Homo sapiens: one gene and its partner. The protein of the gene in region 1 interacts with the protein of each later gene in a pairwise test. Each region holds a gene or a part of one and is shown in the gene's direction. Other genes may lie near its edges.

Evidence for each region.
Region 2: the proteins of GCH1 (region 1) and TNPO3 interact in binary tests that used the Homo sapiens proteins (3 or more experiments, as listed by UniProt).

What each region holds. Positions count from the first base shown.
Region 1 is NC_000014.9:54,857,826-54,864,847, reverse strand, and holds part of GCH1 (GTP cyclohydrolase 1), read left to right. Parts: intron 1-5,111; coding exon 5,112-5,167; intron 5,168-7,022. UniProt on the Homo sapiens protein: Positively regulates nitric oxide synthesis in umbilical vein endothelial cells (HUVECs). May be involved in dopamine synthesis. May modify pain sensitivity and persistence.
Region 2 is NC_000007.14:129,052,109-129,059,295, reverse strand, and holds the start of TNPO3 (transportin-3), read left to right. Parts: upstream 1-4,184; 5' UTR 4,185-4,525; coding exon 4,526-4,645; intron 4,646-7,187. UniProt on the Homo sapiens protein: Importin, which transports target proteins into the nucleus. Specifically mediates the nuclear import of splicing factor serine/arginine (SR) proteins, such as RBM4, SFRS1 and SFRS2, by recognizing phosphorylated SR domains.

The sequences.
Region 1 (7,022 bases):
CTTTCTATATTAGGAAAAGTGAATCTAATGCATTAGATTCCTCAGCACCTCTGTGAATTTCTTTTGTCAGAAATGTTTAGTCCTAGTCTTATGAAACTTTAGATCTAATCTAGTTTACAGGAAATCCAGAGGCTGAATGGAACAAATCCAGAAGGTGGGGCACTCTGCTGAACAGCTGGCCTATTCTCTTTTCAATAGAGAATATTATGGGTGGGAGCACTATTTTAGGACAAAAGGGACTTAAGAGGTATAACCAAATGCAGTGTAAATACAAATGTGTGACTCTCCATTGGATTCCTGTTTAAACAAACCAAAAGTAAAACATTTGAGACAATTGGAGGAATTTAAATCTGAGTTAGTTATTAGATGTTGTCTAGGAATGACTACTTAACATACCTTTGAGAACATGTGGTATAGAACAAAGAGTTGTCCCATTTCCCTACCCCCATCATAATTTTATTTAATTTTGACTCTTTATTAATAATCTTTAAACAGAAGACTTACAAGAAGCAGTGTTATGAATACTTATATACCCATCAACTAAAGTTAAAGTGTTAACATTTGCTTCATTTTTGTCTTTGTTAAAGTATTGTATCTTTTCACTTTTTTATGGAAATAATATATAGATAGAAAATGCATAAAACTTAAGGGTGTTCCTTACCACTTCAGAGATCAAGAACTAGAATAGGCTGGCACGGTGGTTCATGCCTGTAATCCCAGCACTTTGGAAGGCTGAGGTAGGTGGATTGCTTGAACCCAGGAGTTCAAGACCAGCCTGGGCAACATGGTGAGACCCCATCTCTACCAAGATAAAAATAAAAATTACCTGGGCATGGTGGTGCATGCCTGTACTGCCAGCTACTCGGGAGGCTGAGATGGGAGGATGGCTTGAGTCCAAGAGGCAGGGGTTGCAGTGAGCCGAGATTGCGCCACTATATCCTAGCCTGGGCAACAGAGCCAGACTGCCAGACCCTGTCAAACAAACAAACAAACAAACAACAACGAAACCCCCACAACTACAATATGTGTAGCATCCTGGAAGCTCACCTCATTTCTTTTCTCTTCTTAATCCCTAATCCATCCTTTGTATCAGTTTATCAACTTATAACCCTATGGATTCGTTTTCTTGTTTTTCAACTATATGTAAGTGGAAAGATTCTACGATATGTACTCTTTGTGTCTGGCCTCTCTTGTTCTACATAGTCGGATTCATTGATGTCATTGCCTGTCATTGTAGTTTATTTTCATTGTTATATCTTATTCCATTGTACAAATATACCACAATTTATCTATTCTGCTCTTGGTGGACCTTTGTATTGTTGCCTCTTTTTTTTTTTTTTTTTTTTTTGCTATTACAAACAATACTGCTGTCAATACTTTTTTGGAGTACATGTGCATGCTTTTTTTTTTTTTTTTTTTTTTTTTTGAGACGGAGTCTCGCTCTGTCGCCCAGGCTAGATTGCAGTGGTGTGATCTCGGCTCACTGCAAGCTCCACCTCCCGGGTTCACGCCATTCTCTCACCTCAGCCTCCTGAGTAGCTGGGACTACAGGCGCCTGCCACCATGCTGGCTAATTTTGTTGTTGTATTTTTAGTAGAGAAGGGGTTTCACGGTGTTAGCCAGGATGGTCTTGATCTCCTGACCTCGTGATCCGCCCGCCTTGGCCTCCCAAAGTGCTGGGATTACAGGCGTGAGCCACCGCACCTGGCCCTAAAATATTTTCTTACTTATCCACAGCAGCACTATCACAAAATTAACAATAATTCTTAAATAGTGTCTAATAACGAATTCATATTTAAATTTCTCCAATTGTCTCAAATGTTTACTCTTGGTTTGTTTAAACAGGAATCCAAGGGAGAGTCACACATTTGTATTTACATTGCATTTGGTTATACCTGTTAAGTCCCTTTTGTTCTAAAATAGTGCTCCCACCCATAACATTCTCTACTGAAAAGAAAATAGGCCAGCTGTTCAGCAGAGTGCCCCACCTTCCAGATTTGTTTCCTTCAGCCTCTGGATTTCCTATAAACTAGATTAGATCTAAAGTTTCATAAGACTAGGGCTAAACATTTCTGATAAAAGTAGTTCGTAAGGGCTGGGCACGGTGGCTTACGTCAGTAATCTCAACACTTTGGGAGGCCAAGGCAGGTGGTGGATGTATCGCTTTGAGCTCAGGAGTTTGAGACCAACCTAGGCAACATGGTAAAACCCTGTCTCTACCAAAAAAAAAAAAACCAACCAAAAAAAAAAAAAACGAAAACCAATCAACCAAACAGACAAACAAAAAAACAGGCAAAAATTAGCTAGCATGGTGGCATGCACCTGTGGTCTCAGCTACTCGGGAGGGTGAGGTTGGAGAATCGCTTGAACCCAGGAGGTCGAGGCTGCAGTGAGCCGAGATCACACCACTGCACTCCAGCCTGGCAAGAGAGTGAATCCGTGTCCAAAAAAAAAAAAAAAAAAAAAAAGAGTAGTGCTTCATAAGGGTGCTGAAGACTTCATATTATATCACATCAGGGCCGAGTGAGGTGGCTCATGCCTGTAATCCCAGCGACTTGGGAAGTCAAGGTGGGAGGATAGCTTCAGGTCAATAGTTCAAGACCAGCAAGTGAGACTGTCTCTACCACAAAATAAATTTTTTTTTAAAATTAATTGGGCATGGTGGGTGCATACCTGTAGTCCTAGCTACTTTTTGGGAGTCTGAGGCAGGAAGATTGCTTGAGCTCAGGAGTTTCAGGTTACAGTGAACTATGATCATGCCACTGTACCCCAACCTGGGTGACAGAACAAGACCTTGTCTCTAAAAAGAAAAGAAGAGAAAGCAATCAGAAAACCCAGATACATCACATCAGAAGCCATATCGTATCTGGAAATCCTGCAATTGATAATGAAGGAATCTTTGAAAGGGAATCTATTGGTGAGCAAATTAGGCACAGAAAGCCTGTGACTTGTTCAAGAGGATAGAGAGAGTTAGTGGCTTGGCTGCAGCCAGATCCAAGGCACTGATTCTGTACTCAGCCTGTCACCATTTTATCCTGTTACTTTCTGCTATTACTTCCTCAGTGTTTGTGTTTTTGCTACCTTTGTTTTAAAAATATATTATTTAGTGATTTTTTTTTTTTTTTTGAGACAGTTTCGCTCTTGTTGCCTAGGCTGGAGTGCAGTGGTGCGATCTCGGCTCACTGCAACCTCCGCCTCCCAGGTTCAAGCAATTCTTCTGCTTCAGCCTCTCGAATAGCTGGGATTACAGGCACCCGCCACCACGCCTGGCTAATTTTTGTATTTTTAGTAGAGATGGGGTCTCACCATGTTGGCCAGGCTGGTCTTGAACTCCTGACCTCAGGCAATCCACCCAAAATGTTGGAATTACAGGTGTGAGCCACCACTCCTGGCCTATCTAGTGATTTTGTGAAATGGACATTTAAATTACCTAGGATCTTAAGACCAAAAATAGTATAAACAATGAACAAATTCCGTGTCTGCATGGAAATGTAAAAATTTCAGACAGCATAGAAGACCTTGGTTCATGGGAAAGTTTTAACTCTCTAATTTTTCTTTGAAATCCTCAATGTTCAGGTGCTATTTTACTTTTTCCTCCTGCCAACCAGGAAGGCAATGAGGTGGACTTCTCAAATTCCTAAAGCATAGTGCCAATGGATGGGGGAAAAAATCACTAAGTACTACTAGATCAATTATGTAAATAGTAAGTGAACAATGAAAACAGTGTTAGCAAACCATGATGCCGTTGAGTCTCTAATTTTATATTCGGTTAATTAATTGCCTACAAGTGACCATTTACTCTATTAATCTTTTCAGAGAACTAATGTTTTTCGTATGTAGTATTTGGCCCCAAAAGAGTAACTTTTATATTTGATATTAATTGGTGCCATTTAAGATAACAGAAATGGCCTGGCTGTATATTGGGTCCTTTAAAACTTAGTTCTTAGGGTGCAGGTTCTTGCCAAGCCATGGTGGTAGCAGTGCCCTTTTTCTCCAGTTAGGAAGATGGGGCCGGGCGTGGTGGCTCACGCCTGTAATCCCAACTCTTTGGGAGGCCGAGGCGGGCAGATCACAAGGTCAGGAGATCGAAACCATCCTGGCTAACACGGTGAAACACCATCTCTACTAAAAATACAAAAATTAGCTGGGTGTGGTGGCAGGCGCCTGTAGTCCCGGCTACTCAGGAGGCTAAGGCAGGGGAATTGCTTGAACCTTGGAGGCGGAGCTTGCAGTGAGCCAAGACTGGGCCACTGTACTCCAGCCTGGGCGACAGAGTGAGACTCCATCTCAAAAAAAAAAAAAAAAAAAAGGAAGATGGTGCACTCTCTAGCAGCTTAGAAACCAGGAAGCCAAGCACAAAAGGGTGTGGAGACCTTCTGTGCTGCAGGGCTTTGCGGTGGGATCTTAAGGCTGTGAGGTGGGATCTTAAGGCTGCTGTGATGTGTGGAATGGCAATACTTATGCTTACAGTTTTTGCCATTTAAAGGAGGCTTTCCTGTATACATTTTAGTGTTGCTATGAGATCATTTGCCTTTCCTTGAGAATGTTTCTCCTCCATAAAGAAGAAACTTTCAGATTTGTGTCAAGAGTTCAACTTCACAGGTAAGTGTCAGGGCCATGCAATTGACTCTTGAACAACATGAATTTGAACTGCATGGGTCCACTTAGACATGGCTCTTTTTCAAGCAAACACTGATCAAAAATTCTACAGTATTTGCAGGATACAAAACCTGTATAGATGGAGGGGCAACTTTTCATATATGCAGGTTCTGCAGGGCCGACTGCGGGACTTGAGTATGCAGGATTTGGGTATACACAGGGGTCCTGGAAGCAATCTCCCGCATTTACCAACGGACAACTGTACAAGTTTGTTATTTGATTAATAGACTCATACTTATATATTTTGCTTTTACTGCATTTATGTAATTTTAAAAATACATATATAAATGTTTCATTTTCTAAGTCTTAACAGTTCCAGATGTTTTCAAGGTAATACATTGTCGTGATAAATTACATAAAAGTGTACTATATTCTTTCTATATTTCCTTATTTTGTCACAAAGAAGGCACTGTATTTTCACTCAGCTAATGATTTCCGTCTCTTCTCTGAAGGTCCATATTGGTTATCTTCCTAACAAGCAAGTCCTTGGCCTCAGCAAACTTGCGAGGTAAGTGTGACTGTGCAGTGAACAAGAATACAGGTTTATAGGACCTGCCCTCATCTGCTGAGAATCTATCTCATCAGGCTTTCTCTCTTTACCTGTATGGATCTAACTTGGAAGTCATATTGCAACTTAAAGACTTGGAGGGTCTGAAACACAGATGCCCCTTCCTTCTCGTCCCCTACTGCCTGCTTCCTCTTCCACTTCCCACCCTTTCTTCCATAGATACATACATCCTGGAAGTCTCAGCCCACCTCTTTCTCTGCAGAGCCTTCTCTGACTGGAGAGGTCCTGAGCTTACCTTCAGTCCAGCCCCATCCTTTAAGGGGGGTTTAGCTAACAGTGAGGGGTTGGGGAAGAAGCTGGGCAGGGGTCTAGCTGCAGTGCTCTGCTGTCGAACTTGTTGTCAGGCCTGAGGACTCTTCTATCCTTGTCAAGGGGAGTGCTCACCTTCTTTGCTTTCATACAACACTGCTTTCAGACTTGTAATGAAACTTCCCTGTGGGATCCCCAGCCTCAACCCTGCCTTGCTCTGCACTGGATGCCTCCAGGCATATCTCAGGGGTCCTGCAGGCCAGTCCGTTCATGTCTAGGTTCTTTGTTTCTGCAAACACAAGACTGCCTGCCTTGGCTTTGCACAGCTTTATTCTGATACAGTGTTCACGCTCCTCGCTCTCATTTCTCTTTCCTGCTACAATCTTCTTTTCTGTTGTTTATCCTGTGGGTTCATGCCTTAAAAAATTCCCTTACTGCCTTTTTTATTTGGGTTTTAGGAGAGGTGATGTACATACACGTTCATCTGTGTTTAACTGGAAGTCAACATGGGGGTTTGTGTTCAGATATCTCTGGTAGGCCCCAGCCACCAATATTTTATTGCCCTTAAATATCCTTGTTGTTTCTTCGTATAAAGTTAGTGAATTTTGAGTGATGGAGGAAATACTGGGAGGTGTGTGTGTGTGTGGAGAGAGAGAGAAAGTTAAGAACAAGATGAAGGGGTCGGGTAAAGTGTTCCTACTCTTTTTTTTTTTCAAAAATAATCAAGCTAAGTTTGAATAACTTGAGGTTATAGTGACCATATCATAATTGAAATAAATGAGTCTCGGCCGGGTGCCGTCTTTCACACTTGTAATCCCAGCACTTTGGGAGGCTGAGGCGGGCGGATCACTTGAGGTCAGGAGTTTGAGACCAGCCTCACCAACATGGTGAAACCCCATCTCTACTAAAAATACAAAGATTAGCTGGGCGTGGTGGCGCACACCTGTAATCCCAGCTAATCAGGAGGCTGAGGCAGGAGAATTACTTGAACCCGGGAGGCAGAGCTTGCAGTGAGCCGAGATTGTGCCATTGCACTCCAGCCTGGGCGATGGAGTAAGACCCTATCTCAAAAAAATAAAAATAAAAGAAGAGGAATAAATGAGTCTCTGTGACCAGTTGACTGTGCTGTGGCTCTGATGTGTTCCTGTTTCTTTATGCAGGCCCTGGGATTTAACACAGTTGTGAAATGGTGGTCCTGATATTTCTCAATTCTGTGTTGGAATCTGTAAAAAAAAAACTACTCCAGCAATCTGACAACTGCCCTCTAAAGTTGTTCCTGTTACTTTGTTTTCACTTCCACTTTCTCATTCATTTCCTCTGGGGATCAATAAGAAAGTGGGTAGAAGAGACAAATTTAACTTCCCCAGTTTCTGACCTCATTCCTGCTCAGCTATTTTGCTATTAGATAGGGCTGCTTGGCACCATGAAAGAATATTATATCATAGCTGTAATTGCTTCACTGGAATAAGGCTCTTAGCACAAATCCAGAAACATTCTGGCTGCTTGCGTGTGATCCATCCCTGGTGGCAGTGCTGAAAAGTTGCTG
Region 2 (7,187 bases), on another chromosome or scaffold:
TCTGGTCTCAGTTTAGACATAATTTCTCCAGATGGTGTTACCAATCTCTCTACTCTGGGTTAGGTATCACCTCTATTTTTTTTTCTTTTTTCTCCAACTGTTAGCTAAATATCCATGTGGTGTTTTAATAATTCCTAACCATAGAACTTTTAAAAATAAGTTTTATTGAAATATAGTTCACATTGCCATAAAACTCATCCTTTTAAAACATATAAAAAACATATGCCAGTGGTTTTTAATATATTCATGAGGTTTTTCTGAACATCGTCAATAATTCCAGAGCATTTATTTCCATCAATACAAAAAAAAACAAAACCCAAAACAAAAAACCAACCCTGGAAATGACCAATCTACTGTCTATATTTAGAATTTTGCCTACTCTGAACATTTTATGTAAATAGAATCGCGTAATTAATGTGCCTTTTGTGTCTGGCCACTTTCACTTAGCATAATTTTTCAAGTTTATCTATATTGTAGCATCTATCTGTACTTCATTCCTTTTAAGGGTCAAATAACCTTTCATTGTATGGATATAGCACACTTTGTTTATCCATGCATCAAATGACGGATATTGGGGCTGTTTCTGCCGTCTATTATGAATAATGCTGCTATGAATATGCACGTGCAAGTGCTTGTATGCACACACGTTATCATTTCTCTTGAGTATATACCTAAGTGTAGAACTGCTGGTTCATATGATAATTCTATGTTTAACATTTTTTTGAAGAGCTGCCAAACTTTTTCAACATGGCCGCACCATGATACAATCCCATGAATAGTGCATGAGAGTTCTGATTTGTCCACATTCTCACCAGCATTTATCATTTTTTAAATTTTAGTTTTTCTAGTGGGTGTGAAGTTGTATCTCATTGCAGTTTTGATTTGTATTTCCCTGAGGGCTAATGATGAGCATCTTTTCATGTGCATTTGTATATCTTCTTGGAAGAAATGTCTATTCAAATTCACTGCCCATTTAAAAAACTGAATTATCTGAGGCCAGACATGGTGGCTTACGCCTGTAATTCCAGCACTTTGAAAGGCTGAGGCGGGTGGATCACTTGAGGTCAGGAGTTCGAGACCAACCTGGCCAACGTGGTGAAGCCCTGTTTCTACTAAAAATACAAAAATCAGCCAGGCATGGTTGTGGGCACCTGTAATCCCAACTACGTGGGAGGATGAGGTACAAGAATCGCTTGAACCCAGGAGGTGGAGGTTTCAGTGAGCTGAGATTGTGCCATTGTACTCTAGCCTGGGCAACAGAGCAAGACTCCAACTCAAAACAAAAAAACAAAACACACACACACACACACACACACACAAAACAAACCCAAAAACTGAGTTGTCTTTTCATTGTTGAATTGTAAGAGTTCTTTATATACTCTGGATACTAATCAGTTATCAGATATGTTATTTGCACATTCCCTTCCATGTTGTGGACTGTTACTTCACTTTCTTGATAGTGTCCTTTGATACACACAAAAAAATTTGTTTTGAGATATGGTCTCACTGTTTCCCAGGCTGGAGTGCAGTGGCACAATCTCTGCTCACTGCAACCCCCACCTCCTGGGCTAAAGCAATACTCCCACCTCAGCCTCCTGAGTAGCTGGGATTAGAAGCACCCACCACCATGCCCTGCTAATTTTTTTGCATTTTTTTTTGTAGAGATGGAGTCTCATTTCATTACCCAGGATGGTCTTGAACTCCTGGCCTCAAAGGTAATCCTCTTGCCTCGGCCTCCCAAAATGCCGGGATTACACAGTTGTGAGCCACCAAGCCCAGCACTAAATTTTTTTTTAATGAATGAATGGATTAGGTAACCAAAATATCAAGTTTCTTTTTTCTGTCTAAAATTGTATCAACTCTGTGCAGTAACATTGTTTTCATCATGTTGTTGGCAGTTAAAAATTCCTTGACTAACAATTCAGAAGCAAACGAATGCACAAGATGATAGGGATTGTGTGATTTAACAGGTTTTGGAGCAACACTGATCTGGATTCAAATCCTAACTTTAAGAACTGTATCCTTGGGCAAATTACATTACTATTTTTCTTTCTTTAAAATGCGTTTTTTTGTTTGTTTTTTAAGTGCCAGGGGTTTATTTCCCTCACATGTGGGATGGCTCACATACACAACACACAAAGGCGTTGGCACCGTGGGAGAGGGCAGCACCCCTGGCTTCTGCTTGGCCTCACAGTGTAAGAAGGGAGAGGATGGGTTCTCTCTCCTCCCCTCACTAGGGCCTAGGGGACCCAGGAGCAAATTCCATCCCTTTCACCTCTCAGCCAAGGAGAAGCCACATTGGTGACATTTAGTTCCAACAATTACAGTAAGTGGAGAAGGGATTGGTCTGGTCCCGACCATTACACGGTGAAGGTATACATAGTAAAGGAAGATACAGTTTGGATGAGGCCACAATAGGGTGCAGATGACACCATCAGAAGCATGTGCAGGGGAGGGGCAGTCACTCAGCTTCTGGGCTGCTTAGTTCCTGGGTTGGCAGGAAGGGTAGGGAAGACGGATGGGGCTCATTGTTTGGCATTGATGATGTCTACGAATTCGGGCTTGAGGGAAACACCACTCATGAGGAAGGCAGCCACGTCAGGCTGGCTGGCCAGCTCCTTGCAGGTTGCCTTGGTCACAGAGCCTCCATAAATGATACCAGTGCTCTGAGCCACTGCATCAGAGATGTTGGACTTAAGCCATCCTCGGAGCTTCTTGTGTACCTCCTGGGCCTGTTGGGGTGTTGCAGTCTTGCCAGTACCAGTGGCCCACACGGGATCATAGGCCAAGATGACCTTGCTCCAGTCCTTCACATTATCTGCGATGACCTTTGTCTGCTCAAAAACAACCTTCTCAGTGATGCCAGCTTCCCTTTCATCTAGCTTCTCCCCAATGCAGGCGATTACTCCGAGTCTCTCTGCCAGAGCATGGGCCACTTTTCTGCCCAATCAGCTCATCTGACTCCCCAAAGACACGCCTTCTGAGTGCCCCAGGACCACACCACCCACGTGACTCCTAAGTCTTTGACCATGCCAGGGCTGATCTCCCCAGTAAAGGCCCCATTAGTCACTTTGTAGCAGTTCTGCGGAGCCACAGCAATCTTGGGAGCTAGCTTCTGCCGGGCCAACTCGTTATACGCAGTGGCGAGAGCACAAATCACCTTGGTGTCGGCAGGCACAGTGGCCGCGTTCTGAGTGCCGATGAGCTCCCCCAGACATTTCTTCCGCCCGTTCATCTTCCAGTTCCTCCCCACGAAGAACTTCCTGGAGGGCGCCATGGCGCTGGAGCTGAGGCGCTGTAGGTCAGTGTCAGCGCCTAAAACGGGTTTTATTAATACTTGGCAAGGTTGTTAGGCGGATTAAATGAGATCTTGTAACTACAGTGTTTTACACATTGTGATCATTTATCAAATAGCAGTTATTTACTAGTGCAAAGGACTAGCAGCAATGTTAATATCAATATACTGTTACCTTTTGTCCCTAATTTCTCCATAGTACAGTTTCCAATATTTCTGTTTTCTTTTGTGAATTGTTAGACCACTGGTATTGGATTCGGACAGAAAGGCATTCACAAAAATACAGTTCAATGTGAGAATAACCCTAAAGATGTATGCAAAATGCTCTGGAGTTAGAGCACCAGGAGCTGTAAGCAGAATGAAGACCTCTTTTGGGCTTAAGAACTAAGTAAAGGGGAGCTGAACAAAGATTCTAGGCATTTTGGATTTATCTCAATGTGGCACATATTTCAGGTTTGTAAAATAGTTCAGTTGACTACGTGTCTGTCTCCTCCACTAGAGCCAGCGTAGGTACCATGTCTTAAGTCATCTTTGGATCTCCAGTACTGTGGCCACTCTAGGGAGAGTTGAATTGACGCGCCTTGATCACCAGGGCAGAAAAGGATTCTCTGGAGAGGGATGGGGCAGTCGGAAGGGGTAGGAAAAACCTGGATCCGTTTCCAAGGAGCTGAAGGCAGCTCAGATATGGGGCACATCTCGGCGCTAATGTCCCAAGCTGCTAGCGAGGAACAGAGAGAACACCGGCTCTTCTTCCCGGCTCCTGGCCCGGCAGGGTTACTTCCGGGAGGGGGCGGGGAGACAAGAGGAGGCGTGCCGGGAAGGAGGCCGTTTGTAGTGTACCAGGCGGAAGTGTGCCAAAGGTATCGGTGCTGTCGCTTCCGGTCCGGGTAAACGAACCTTAGGTACACTGGTGTGTGGCCTCCCAAGATAGGCTTCTGAGGGCAAGTCAGCGACTGAAGACGGGAGCGCCAGAATCTGTGGACTCAAGAGTCTAGAATCAAGTGGAAAAACCGGAAAAAAGGCCAGGAACCTGAATACGACCTAATAGCTGTTTCCGAGGGGGCAACTTCCACGGAGAGCCTTCTGCCCTGGTAACGGCCAAAGAGGAGGAGATGGCGCCAGTCAGGGAGCGGCCGTGGCCCAGACAGTGAGGAAGCGCGAAGGCGGAGCAACCGAGGAATCCTCCGGAGAAGAATCAGAGCCGTCGCTACCGCCACTACCGCCACCACCATGGAAGGAGCAAAGCCGACATTGCAGCTCGTGTACCAGGCAGTGCAGGCGCTTTACCACGACCCAGATCCCAGCGGAAAGGAGCGCGCCTCTTTTTGGCTTGGGGAGCTGCAGCGTTCGGTGAGGGGCCCAGAGAGGCAGTTCTGTGCCGCACGGCCGGGGCGGGGTGGAACCTAGGCTCCGGGGGAGAACCTGAGCCCGGCAGTTGACCTCGTGAGGTCCTCCTTGGGGAGGAGCTGCTGTCGTGGGGTGGGGCTGCGAAGCTACATCTTTGCCGCTTTTGGGAAACTAGTCGCACCTGATCGGTCGCGAACTGGCCCTTTCCCCACCCGGCAGAATCTGATTTGTAGGTCTTATACTCTTCGATTGTGGCATCAATCTAATCTTGTTTAAGTTCTCCCTTTGCCGTTGCTTCTTGGGCCGTGCTTTTCCGTTTTGTCTTCCTCCCACCAAATCCAACCCCAGTGTTTCTCCACCTTCCGCTTAAGAAGGCTTTATTCGTCTCCCCTCCGTGTCCAAGACTTGCATCTGGCATTTTGCTCCCAGTCGTAGCCTTATGCCTCACTCTTTTTGCCTATTTTCACTCCAGTTTGAGTCTGTTCTTCTCGAAACTTCTCAGGTTTCTAGATTCTTACTCATGCGAGTTTTCCCCTTGCTTTGGAGTGGCAACATAATATGAAGAAAAAACAGTAATTCTGCTTTCAGAAAATCTTTGGAGTTCTCATTTTGTTTCATATTAATCCTCTAACCTTGTTATTTCTCTGGCTTTTAGATTTTTATTTATAAGATGGGTATCACTGCTGCTTTGATTATTCCATATAAAACTGTGTGTGCATCCGGTGAGATATTTAATTGTAGCTTATATCTGTTGTATTTCTGCATTCTTTGATTCATGTTTTATGCTTCCTGCCCTAATTTTCACACCTTTGCTGTGCTTCATTTCTGTGTAAATGTGTATTCTTGGTTATCTGGCTGACTTAGGTTCTAATGTAGGATGTACTTTAAAAATTAAGTACTTTGAAAACTAAAGAGGCTTTTTTTACAGGCTGACAAAATACTCACCTTTACCTTTATTTTTGCATTTTATACTCACAACCATATTTTTTTTGGCCCCCTTCCCTTTATTTTAACTCATAACTGATACTTAAAGGTGCTCTGCCTTATTAAATCAGCTCCTAGGCTGCAAGTGCATAATATTTAAAAATTTGCAACTTTGACTTTTTAAAAATCTGGTCTTGGTATGGAGCAACTTTGCCTTTTTTTTTTTTTTTTTTTTGAGACAGAGTCTCGCTTTGTCGCCCAGGCTGGAGTGCAGTGGTCCCATCTCAGCTCACTGCAACCTCCTCCTCCCGGGTTCAAGAGATTCTCCTGCCTCAGCCTCCCGAGTAGCTGGGATTACAGGTGCCTGCCCTGACACCCGACTAATTTTTTTTTTTTTTTCTTGAGACAGAGTCTGGCTCTGTTGCCCAGGCTGGAGGAGTGCAGTGGTGCTATCTCGGCACACTGCAACCTCCTCCTCCCAGGTTCAAGTGATTCTCCTGTCTCAGCCTCCTGAGTAGCTGGGATTACAGGCACACGCCACCACACCCAGCTAATTTTTGTATTTTTTAGTAGAAACGGGGTTTCGCCATGTTGGCCAGGCTGGTCTCTAACTCCGACCTCAGGTGATCCGCCCGCCTCGGCCTCCCAAAGTGCTGGGATTATAGATGTGAGCCATCGCCCCCCGCTGCAACTTTGACTTTGAATATTAAACCTAAAAAACTGGCACCCAAGTCCTCTTCAGAAAATAAAGGAATACGACTCACTGTAGGCTACACAAGAAAATCATTCACATATGGTCTCATTTAGTGTTTCTGTGATCTCTGGAGAGTCAACAATTCCCTGATCTTTGTATAGTTTTCTAAAGTGTAATTAGGAGAAGTGCTACACTATACTAAAAAAGTAATCTCTTTCTAATTAAACCTGCTTGTTGTGTGTATTTTAAATCAATATTTGAGTGCTTACCATGTGCCAGCAACTATGCTGGGTGTTTGGATTTGGAAATGAACCAGACAAAAATCTCTGCTTACCACAGAAGGTAGTTGTGATTAAATGAGTTAATATTCTACGAAGAGGTTAGAAAAGTTCTTGGAACATAGAGATTAAAATGTTAGCAATTGTTATTTAAGTATTAGTCACTTTTCTCTCCTTACTTTCCAATACTCTATTACAACCTTACATCATCTTCACCATCACAGTTAATAGTCAGAGTCCAGACAGGAACAGATGGCACACTTGACAGGATAATCTGAGTTTATTTTATAAAGATACTATTATAAAGATTTAGGTATAGTGGTGTGACAAGAAATAGTTTGGTAACCTATAGCTGAACGGTTAACATCCCATAAAAGAGGGAATAGTTACTTGAAAAGTATGGAGTTGGCTGCCTTGAGAGGAATGGTGACTTTCAGCCGAAGGGACATAGCTAGTTTCAGGTGACCTTGAGAGAATGAAGCTGGAGGAATGAATATCCTGACCCTGTTCTCTTAATTTCTTGCTGGGATTCCCCATTGGCCAAACCCAACCGGAAGCCAGGGGCACAGTGACCTGTTGGTAAAGTCTATACAGGTCAGCCTATTGGAGCAGAAAACATGATAGAGGAGGGTGGAAAAGTGGATCTGGA